Linked DNA regions of Homo sapiens: region 2 is linked to region 1. The links come from fine-mapping of genetic effects on gene expression. A gene starts in region 1. The other region holds a variant in brackets. All regions are shown on one strand. Distances are from middle to middle.

Region 1 (5,387 bases):
TCACCATGTTGGCCAGCCTGGTCTCGAACTCCTGACCTAAGGTGATCTGCCCACCTCAGCCTCCCCAAGTGTTGGGATTACAGGCTTGAGCCACCATGCCTAGTCAGAAAATTCCTGTACATAATATAGATATGGAATTCAAATCCAAGACTGTCACATTGAAGAGTCTAGAACCTCAGCTTTTAGGCACTGAACTACATTGCTTCCTTAAAAAATAACCATATATGTGTAGTCAAGGGGATTGCATAAAAACCCATCTTCCTGTGCATGAACCTCACTAAGGTACTTCCTGGCCAAACTGTGAAACTGCATCATATGCTTTTATTTCAGAAAAAGAGACTAAATATTTGTTCTTGTTACAGTAGGTTATGTGTCAGGGTTAAAAGCAGAAAAAAAAGTCACATAGATGAGTGTGAATATGACACGTAAGTTCGTTCTATGAAATGGCCTTTTCCATTTTTTAAAAAAATATTCAAACACTAACGTGATGCAGTTTGTAATTCTCCTTTATGCTTGTTCAGGGTTTCTAATATTAGTTCTCTATTATTATTTTTTGAGACAGGGCATCACTCTGTTGCCTAGGCTGGAGGACAGTGGTAAGATCATGGCTCACGGCAGCCTTGACTTCCAGGCTCAAGCAATCCTCCTGCCTCAGCCTCCCGAGTAGAGTCTATTTTTATTGCTATTCAACTTTTTGGTCCTCAAATATGATGAAATTACCCAAACCAGATAAGACAGTTGGAGACCACATAGTAGATCCTCAACTACTTCAACTCTCAAAAGAAATGGCAAAGACAAAGGGTAAAGAGTAACATTATGTGCACTCTTAATGGAACAAGCTTCTAGTGAAATTTCTTGAAACAAACTTCAGGAAGCCATGCATTATAATCATTATTATTAGAATTTTAATATTTTGTCTGCTAATGAAAACTTATAGCCCATGATTCATATAACTGTGCTTCAGGAAGTAAAGGCTTTTTCTGAAAAATGCACACGCTAGCTTCCTTTTCTCAGTTTACCTTTCTACTTTAGAGCAGAGGTGTTGCAAGGATTAGAACCAAGGGTGATCCAGAAGAAGAAACTGCAGAACTATGGGCATTGCAAGGAAAATAGGGTTGTGCTCAATTTTTAGTTTTGTATTAAGCTCCGGGAGGACATTCCTTAGAAGTCCTCCATAATTACGTTGGCTATTCTTTCCGCTCTCTCTATCTTTGTTTTGTTACTGAGCTGGCACTCCTTGGTTGTGTCAATTCTTGATTCTTTACCCACGAGAGTGGAAAGAAGTCTTGATCTAACGGAGTAGCCATCAAAAGAAAGAGCAGTCAGTTTCCTATTCCCGCACCCTCCCCCCAGCTGTCTTCTTGCTTGAGGAAGTACTTACTGTAAAGCATTCCAATTTTCCTAAGCAGATCTTTTCCCCTCACAATCCTTTTTCCTCTTTTTTAATTCCAGTAAGTTTTTTGGCTCTTTCATTGGTCATATATGACTGCCATCCGAATCCAACCCTCCTGAATTCTGTCCCTGTCCATTCTAAATCCGTATTCTGCACAAATAAGATATATTAGGTCTCAATACTGGTCTGGAAGTTAGAGTCACGCCTATTTCATTCTGCCTCCATCAAGAAGCGCCCGTAGGAAAAAATAACAACAAAAACAAAAACAAAAACAAAAAAACCCAGAAGCTGGCCTTCCTCAGCGCCAGCCCCAGGACTGGTTTCCCAGCAATAGGCGCAAGGTACAGCCCTTGCCGGAAACTCCCAGTCTTACTCAGGGGGGAAAAATGGGGTTTTCCGGAGACCTGTTCCCCTAGGGTTTAAAAGCGCGTCCCGTGGGAGCTTCGCTTTCACTTCTCTAGGGAGTTCTGAGCTGCAAGAGCCCAGCTACTCGCCGAACCCGGGCCGCCTGCGTGAGTAACTTGGGGCGGCCAGGAGCACGGGAAGGGCGCCAGACAGAGAGCCTTTGGCTGCTTCTGAGACCGGCTGTGGGCTGCCACCGCTGAGCGGCGCGGAGGCTGCAGCGTTCCCTCTCAGGACAGAAAGCAGGCGTTGGGGACTGTTACTCGCAGCCTGCCAGGGGCAGCAGCCGCCCCAGGTTCAAGTGGCTATGTGCCAGGATACTCAGGCGCGGCTGTTGGCTGCCCATGGGAGAGCCAGTGCTCTCCGCAGGTCCAAAGTGCAAGGCCGGGCTATTCCCGGACTTGCCTAGGAGCAGGGGCCCCCAGCGCGTCTGGGATTGCCCCGGCGCGTCGGGCGCGCGAACTTGTGCGCAAGGGAGAAGAGCGCTTACCATGGAACATGGTCTGCGGGAGGCGGGCGTAGTCATGATGACCGCAACTGGAGCAGGAGCAAGCTCTCACCGCCCATAGTCACTCCCAGGACCCTGGTCTTCCGCGGAGTTGCCGAGTCTGTGTTGGGCAGGGTGATCTCTGCAGCTGGTTCCTCTTACCCACGCCGCGACTGCAGTTTCATCCATCCCAAGGGGGGCGGCACACACTACGGCGTGGCTCTGCGCTTTGCCTTTTCCATAACTTCCGTAGGATCCGCCAGCAGTGTACTTTCAGTTTCTACTTTGCGCTTGGTCTGCAGGTTCAATCTTTGGGATCATCAGCATGGAATCTTCATTATCCCCTCTCTCCTGGGCACCTGCTTCCCGCGCACCTGGATGAGGACCAGAGGAATTCGCGAATTTCCGAATCACCGCAGGAAAAACCAGCTGGCCTGAATCAAAGCAATTCTGGGTAAAAGACTTCCCAGATGATCTCTCAACGCCTTGGCAACGCTTGGCGACTGGGAGCTAGAACCATGAGTTGTTAATGTGTGCACGGAAGCCACAAGTGTGCAGGACGCAAGCTGGGTTATTGGAAGCGGACGACACCAAGGAGGCGTTGCCGCGGATGTGGTGGACGATGCCAAGTCGTCTTTTAAAAAAGGAAGTGAAGAATGATTAAGAGGGTCACGCCCTCTACCACTCCAACCTCTCTAATCAGTCTCTTTCTGCTCCGTCTGCTGTACATGCACCTGCTCAGGTGAGACCTCAAGGAAAAATAATCCTGTGGGTCCACCTAATCTGGTAAGTGTTGTATTTGGAAAATCAAACCCCAAATTAAACGCAGGACGTGGAAACTGACGATAATATTTAACTATGACTTCCACGTGCACATTTATCTGAATTGGCTAATAAATCAAACTATTCGTCTTGAATGCATGCCACTGAAATGTTAACTTTTTCCTGGGCTTGAATTATGTAGCTTATTTGCTACATTAGTTTGGTTTCTGCTATTCTGCAGAAACCCTGCTTAGATGAAGGTGGATAATGTAAACCAGTAACAACAGCGATAATAATAACGACTATCATTTATCTAGCATTTGCTCTCTGCCAGTTTTGTGCTAAGCATTTTATGTATATCATCTCATGCAAAACTTTGTGTGAGGTAGACCATTTTCTTATCTGCACTTTACAGATGTGGGGACTGAGACTTCCTTAAGTAACTTTCCAAATTTCACTTAGCTAACTGAGCTTAGACACAGACTTGCTGCATTTGGGCTGTAGAAACTCCTGCTTGGAACTCCTGTGAATAAAGTAATAATGTGCACACTGATGCCGGGAGGGAGATGACAGTACGTGTGTGGCTTTGCCCCAGTGTGGGGACTTCAGGAAAGTTTCCTGGAGTCTGTGACTTCTAAACTGACACTTGAAGAGGAATGAACTTGGGGCTGGTAAGGAGTATGTCACATTCTGCTATAGCGTGAACAAGGAAGAGGAGGGAAGGAGAAAGGAAAAAAAAGGATGGCAATGAACTAGGGAGAACAGAGTTGCTCAAGCCTGAAACTTGGGTCTCTGATTCCTTTTTTGGTCTCATTTCCCACATCAAATCCATAGACAAGTCCTGTCTGCCCCACCTCCAAAATTAACCCTAAGGTGACTATAGAGACTGTCTAAGGGATCTTCCAGCTTTCACTTTTGCCCACAACCCCTTCATTCTTCTCAGAGCAGCAGGATATCTGATTCTATTTTGTGCCCCACCTTCTGGTCACTTCCCACTGGGTACCAGGCCCTCAGTGCCCTGGTGATCTGGGCCCCACTGCCCTCTCTGACGTTTCGTGGTACCACATCACTATCCTCCAGCCACAATGGCCTTTCTCTTCCTGCCCAGCGTCCACTTACTATGGTCTTTAGCCCATGGCTGGCATTCAGTAAGTACTGGGGGGTGACAGAGTAAGAGAGAACAGGTGAGTGGGAATGCATCAGTGAATATGTGTGAAAGAGAAAGTTCATGAAAGCAGAAGGAAATAGAATGAAAGAGGAAGCGAAGGGGGTAAGCAAATGGAAAAGAGAGACAGAATGGAGTGAGAAAAGCCACATATTTCCATTTGACTGGAACCTAGAGTGGGAGGTGGGGAGGAGGACAGACATGACACTGGAGTGAGTTTTAAAAATGATTTCTATAATGAAACACGCCTAGGTTGGGGATTTATTTATTTATTTATTTATTTATTTATTTATTTATTTATTTTAAATCCCTGACAGCAGCATTGAAGTATGTAACTGTTCATAGCCTGCACCTTTTTCTTTTTTTAACTTTCCAGGAACAAAGTAAAAGAGCATCCATCAATACTTTGCACAAAAGGAAATCCGTCTTCCTTTTATCACAATCACCATAAATCCAGGTAGAATAAGGGTTGTACATATCTGAACTTTTGGGAAGCATGAAAGGAAGTTATTCAGAGCTGCAGGAAAGGCAATGTAAATGTTACACTGGATTCTGCCCCCAACTATAAAGAATCTTTCTGAAGAGAATATTCATAAAGCTTTGGGAATTGTTAGGGTTATATGAAATGGGCACATTCTAACAACATCAAGTAATGATTTTTTTTTTCTGTCTGTGAGATAATTAATACCATTTAGAAAAAAATCCAAAATGAAGTCTTAAATTAGCTTTTGATATTTTGATAAACTGAATATTATTTTTTATAAGATAGATGGACAAGAATAAAATGTTTATAAATTTTTAAAATGCTAATGTTTTATGATTAAAGAAATGGAATGGTTACTATTATGTTTGCTCATAGACTCAATGAACTGGACAGAAAAGCCTTTAAGGGAGAAAATAGTAAATACATTTTATGAATTATGGTAAATAAATTTTAAAAGAGAAGACAACATTCTCAGAATGATCAATATAATGTATTAGAAGAAGTTCAAATAAAATTATATGATGTCAATTTAAAGAGAAAATTATTGAACATTAACCAATATCTTTTAATGTTCTACAGTCTTCAGTCAGAATAGTCAATTATTGTAAACCAGAAAATATTTTTTGATTAATATCTGAACTATTTTTACCCAACTTAATATGACTACTTTTTGTAGTCTGTGATATGAATTCTA
Region 2 (5,387 bases), 93 kb before region 1:
GAAAAGCACATTTACTTTGGAGAGCAACTGTAATACACCTAAAATTAGAGCAACCAAAGGCATGTATGGAGCATTTTTTAATTTAAAAAATTGCATTTTGTTTCTCATACCTTATTTAAAACATTAAGAAGTAAATGTCTTTAGTTTTTGAGTACATTTTTATATGAATAGGAAACATGCTGTTTTCATAATCCAGTCTTTTGATGTGTGTGAAATGAATTTGTGTGGAGCGTTATGTGAATTTTTATGAACTTATCTTTTATTGTTGATCTAGAAATGCTTGTGATAACCTAGAATTCCAGACCTCGGTTTCTTATGTGGATAACAATGATTGGAGATTTTGGATAGGGAGCTAACTTTGCTGTGGAATTGAGATACTAATTATTTGTGTAGGATTGATAAATTTAGGATCAAAAGTAGAGGTATGACACATTTCAAAACTGCCTTAGAGCAGGGGGGTGTTCAATCTTTTGGCTTCCCTGGGCCACACTGAAAGAAGAATTGTCTTGGACCACATATAAAATACACGAACGCTAATGATAGCTGATGAACTAAAAAAAAAAAAAAAAATTTCATAATGTTTTAAGAAAGTTTACGAATTTGTATAGGGCCCCATTCAAAGCCATCTTGGGTGGCATGTGGCCTGTGAGCTGCTGGTTGGACAAGATTGCCTTATAGCATCATAACAACAGAGGTGTGCAAAGATACAAAATACCATCCGGTAAATTCTTTTCCCAATATTATTTCAGAAATCATCTTTTTGTTATATCTCAATCTACAGTACTTGCTACACTCCTACAAGGTACCTAGTAAGCCACACTAAAATTACTTATTTCGTAAGTGAATTCACTCTCCTGGTATCAACAGTAAATGACTTTTCCTATGTTAAAGTTTATTTCAAATCAGGGATAGGTTGATATCGTCACCATACTCATTCAGCTATGAGTATTTTGAAGGCCTGTGAAAGTATTATATGTATAAAATCTTGATTGTTATTGAGATTTATAGATTTTGTTTTTGATAGCCTAATGGCAACTTAGAATGTAAGTTATTAAGTGATTATAGCCTAAAAATAGCATTCATTAACTTTTAGCCTAAGTAACATTTGAGTTTTGAATGTACATATATATATATGCACACATATAAATCAAGTTGAATGTTATAATACAAGTATGGTTAAAATCATTACTGGAACCTGTCCTTCAATTAGGTTTTCAAAATCTGAAAATATTGGCAATCTTTTTATATATGTAATGTTTCCATTGGATAATTACCTTTAGGTTTTTATTATATTTTACACATCTTTCTTGAACTGAACTTTGTTGTATCACATGTAGGATTTGACCATTTCTTATCATATAAGAGGAATATGTTTTTAAAATATAGTCAAAAATTTTCTAAATTTTAATTTCAGGAAGTTTTTTCTGAGAAAGAAAAATTTTAATCCTTATTTCCAGAATCATGTAAGATAACCACTGTTTGGAAGAAAAATGTTTTGATAATTAAGGATTAGAATAAAATCTGAATGTTTAAAATTCCAATAGATGGGTTTCTTTGTACTTTAACAAATTAAAAACAAATTTTAATTTAAAATATTTTAGAAATTTTACTTAATACATTTATTTAATGAAGGCTGCTTTTAAGAACTTTAAATCCTCACGTAAACACCACCACCTGCAAAGTATTAATATCAACTTTTTCAACAAAATGCCTGCTATGTATAAGCTACTGAAAGAAGACAAAAATTAATAAAATGTGTCCCTCCTCTTAGATATCTATAATCTAGGAAAATGAACACATTCTTTTCAGACACTAAACTCCATAAGAACAGGTATCAGATCTATCTTATTTACCACCACATCCTGAGAATGGAGCACAGTGCCTGACACATAATAGATGCTCATAATAGATGCTCAGGGTTTATAGTCAGTGAATAAGTAAAGAAATGAGTGAGCAAATATCTCTTAAAAAGAACAGACTTTTAAAGTTAACAAGCAGTGATGTGTTATTCAGTAGCAAATAAGATTGTTTCCTAATGTCATAATTCAATTTTCCCTGCTTCCTACTATGACTAGATGTTGGTTGGTGATAGTTTATATGATTCAGTTATTTGGTTGGTTGATTTAAAACAGTGAAATATCCTACAAACCTGCAGTTTGTCCTGCTATCCTCTAGATGGAGAGCCTTTATAATTTTGGTCAAAATGTGTGTGTGT[A/G]TATATAGGCCCCTTACCATTATTATATGTGATTTTTAGAATTGTCATCCATGTTTTTTTTTTCCATGCCGAGTCCTGTTTTACTTTGGATACATTTCAGAAATAAAGTCACTTTTTTGTTAGAAGTCAGTGGAGTTAGAAAGTCAAATGGAGTACATGTTATTTAGTCAATTCCTTATTTTTGGAATTTTAAAAAGCACGGAAATAAATAATATGAAGAGTAGAGAAAGTTTCCATGAATTCTGGGAGGAAGAAAAATCATTTGTGAATAACAGCATTCAGTTCACTTATAGCTTCATGATTTTTTTTTTGAAATAGTTGTTCTTCCTAAGTTTCTTCATTGATTCCATTGCCCTGCTGTGTATAATTTGACATTTGTTTGGATGTGTAGGGTAGCCTGTGTAGTCAGAATTTTCAGACCTAATAATGGACATTGTATGAACTCTCTGAGGATTCTTTTGGACATTAGTTCTTACCTTGACAGTCAGATAAAATTAAGGACTTGGGGAGTAGATATCTGATGAACCAGAATAATGTCTTTTAAAAAAACTTTATATAAAGAAGCAGTAGCAATCTCCTTATGGGTACACCTTTATATATTTTAATAGTAATATGGACAAGTTAGGCCCTCCACTTCGAACGGGAAGACTTGTGCAAAGGTTGTATGACAGTGATACAAAATCAGACAGTGCCATCAAAAGACATGAGTTATTACCTATTTACAAGTAAGTATTTGTAACTCAGTTTGGTTAATATTTTTCAGATATTTCCTTAAAAGCTTTATATAATGGAATAACATAACTTTTACTGTCCTATACTTAAAAAAATCTGTTGAATAATTTCTAAGCCAAAATGTGTCAAATAATCTAGGATTTAAAACATTTTGATTTTTAGTAAGCATTTCTGTTGTACTAAATAAAACTTTTTAGGTTATACATTTTATTCCATTAAATATTAATTTTTTGAGGTTTCAAATTGCAGTCACATTTAATAATTATTTTTATGAAGTTTTTTTTAGTAGTAATTAGGGTTTTTTGTAATAGTAGTTTTAAAAAGCAGAGTTTGAGAAAAATAATGTCTTGTACAGTATATAATATTGTTAGATTATCTCTTAGATAAGCCGATGGTGAACTATTATAAAAAGCCCAGAAAAAGAAAAGATTTTAGGAAACTTTCAATCCAAGGGTCCTTAGTCTTTTTGTTAGATGGTTGTAAATTCTGCCTACAACCGGGAAAAAGTATGACACTGCCAAAGAGTCAAGCTCGAGGAAGAGTATGACACAGCCAGTTCTGACCTGGCTGGCTGAAAAGAGTGTGTGGCAATGGCAGTTACTTTGAAACTCTACAGCATGAGTCTTCAAGGTTTACTAATTTGGGTCTCAATTCTAGCCCACATTTTAAATATGAAATTAGGGCCTAAAAATTAATATACCTATTAATGGTGGAAAATATTAAGCAGAGTAACTTAGTTAACTTTTAAACCAACACCTACTACAACAGTCTGCTCAGTATGTATGTATGAAAAGTAATAATAAATTTAACTAGATAAACAAAGGTAGGAGAAGTCTTTAAGATACTAGCAGCAGCCATTTGCTATTTTTAAGTAGTGATAAATCCTAGCAGGAAGAGTTTGTGCTGTGAGCCGTTTTTCATTTTGCTGATTCTACTGTCAGAACTCTCTGATGCAGATCTCACAGTAACAGTGACTAGCAGTAAGATGGATTAAGTACAATTCCAAAATTAAACCTTCTTTAATTATTCATATGAGCTGTTAACAGGTAGATTCTAGATACAGAGTAAGAGTAATGCTTTGCAGATTCTGAACAGAAAGAAAAATTTGTGGACTGTGTAAGACTGGGGCAAGATGTTTTAAGTGATCAAGGCCATTCTAGATGTTACTAAAAATAAATGACAGGTATTTAATATTGGTAGCTATTAATGATGATAATCTCTTATATTTTCCTCTAAATATAAACATTTTGAACAACCTCAAGTTACCGATATGGTGACATTATGTGTATATATTCATGGGTGTGTTTGTATTGTTTGTATATCTCATGCACTTAAGACGATTCTATAGCCAAAAAAAAAAAAAGTGTTCTTCCTATTTAAAGTCCATTCTTTGACAATGATTTCCTAAAGATTGAATTTCTAGAAAAAGACTCTAGTAGTTCTACAACATCCCCAAAGAGGCTATACACAAGAGTAGAGTAAACCTCATGAATGGACTTGGAGTGAGCATTTGAAGAGGTGCAGGGCATTCCATTCATGCACCAAAGTGATTCTTTGCTTGTTGAAGTTTAGAAGTAATTTAAAGAAGTAACTATGCAAAGCAACCACTTTGAATGACAGCATTGTGTATTGAATATGAGTTCTGTAATACAGCCCACTTAAGTTCAAGTACTACTCTGGCCACGTAGTAGCCTCACAATTTATATAATCTCTTTGAACATGCTTCCACTTTAAAATGGGAATAATATCTTCTGAGATTTGGGGGACATTAAATAAGGCATGTGTAGTATCTGGCTTCATAATTGTCATGTAGTGGCTGTTTGAAAAATAGTGGATGTTGTTATTACCTGCATGTACTTTGGAAGCAGCTATTTACAATTTTAGGGTACTCTCTCCTACTTTGCCATATAAGTAGAGTAAGAAAAATTTCAACTAAAGTTTAAGAACCTCTAATCTGGAGGTATTTTTTAAAGTATTCTGCTGTTCATATAACACTGTTCACCTGTGAAATTTAAAGATTTGATTAAAGCTCTATAGAGAGGGAGGGAACTATGCTTCAATGAACATCTAAATCCTAGCTTTGGAACACACTAGCAGGGTCACCTTGGGTAAGTTACTTAGGGGCTCTTTACCTCATTTGTCTTATCTGTAAATGGAGTTATGAACGCTACCTATTTCATAGGATTATTAGGATAAATAAATTTCTATGGGCAAAATAATTAGAATTGTACTTGACATGGAGTAAGCACTATTATATAAATGTTAACTTATAGTGGCAACAACAGTAGTAATAGTATTAGCATCAGCTATCTAAATGTTTATATGAATTGTACTTTTTTTCTCATAACCTTTCTATAAGTGATCATTTTATAAATGATGAGACTCAGACTTGCTGTCACAAAGCTGTCAGTAGCATTAGCATTTGAATCTAAATTCATTT

Direction of the effects. Alleles are on the strand shown, and positions count from the first base shown. SD is a standard deviation of normalised expression in the study named.
With allele A in place of G in region 2, the expression in cerebral cortex of the gene that starts at base 2,836 in region 1 is lower (moderate effect, 0.64 SD a copy in GTEx).

The links. PIP is the estimated chance that this variant, and not a neighbour inherited with it, causes the effect.
Region 2: its variant is the best candidate, but not a certain one, in a credible set for the expression of IL7 in cerebral cortex (GTEx, PIP 0.57).

The regions. Positions count from the first base shown.
Region 1 is chr8:78,802,628-78,808,014 of GRCh38, forward strand. IL7 (interleukin 7) reads right to left here and starts at 2,836. Exons shown (of 6, transcript NM_000880.4): 1 at 2,286-2,836. The coding sequence starts at 2,295. MITA1 (metabolism induced tumor activator 1) reads left to right here and starts at 1,845. Exons shown (of 3, transcript XR_002956715.2): 1 at 1,845-3,068.
Region 2 is chr8:78,709,167-78,714,553 of GRCh38, forward strand. All of the region lies in intron 7 of ZC2HC1A (zinc finger C2HC-type containing 1A), which reads left to right. It also overlaps a transcript of IL7 not described here. Among named protein-coding and RNA genes, the nearest start is that of ZC2HC1A, 46 kb to the left of the region's middle. The variant A/G (reference allele first, on the strand shown) is at 2,216.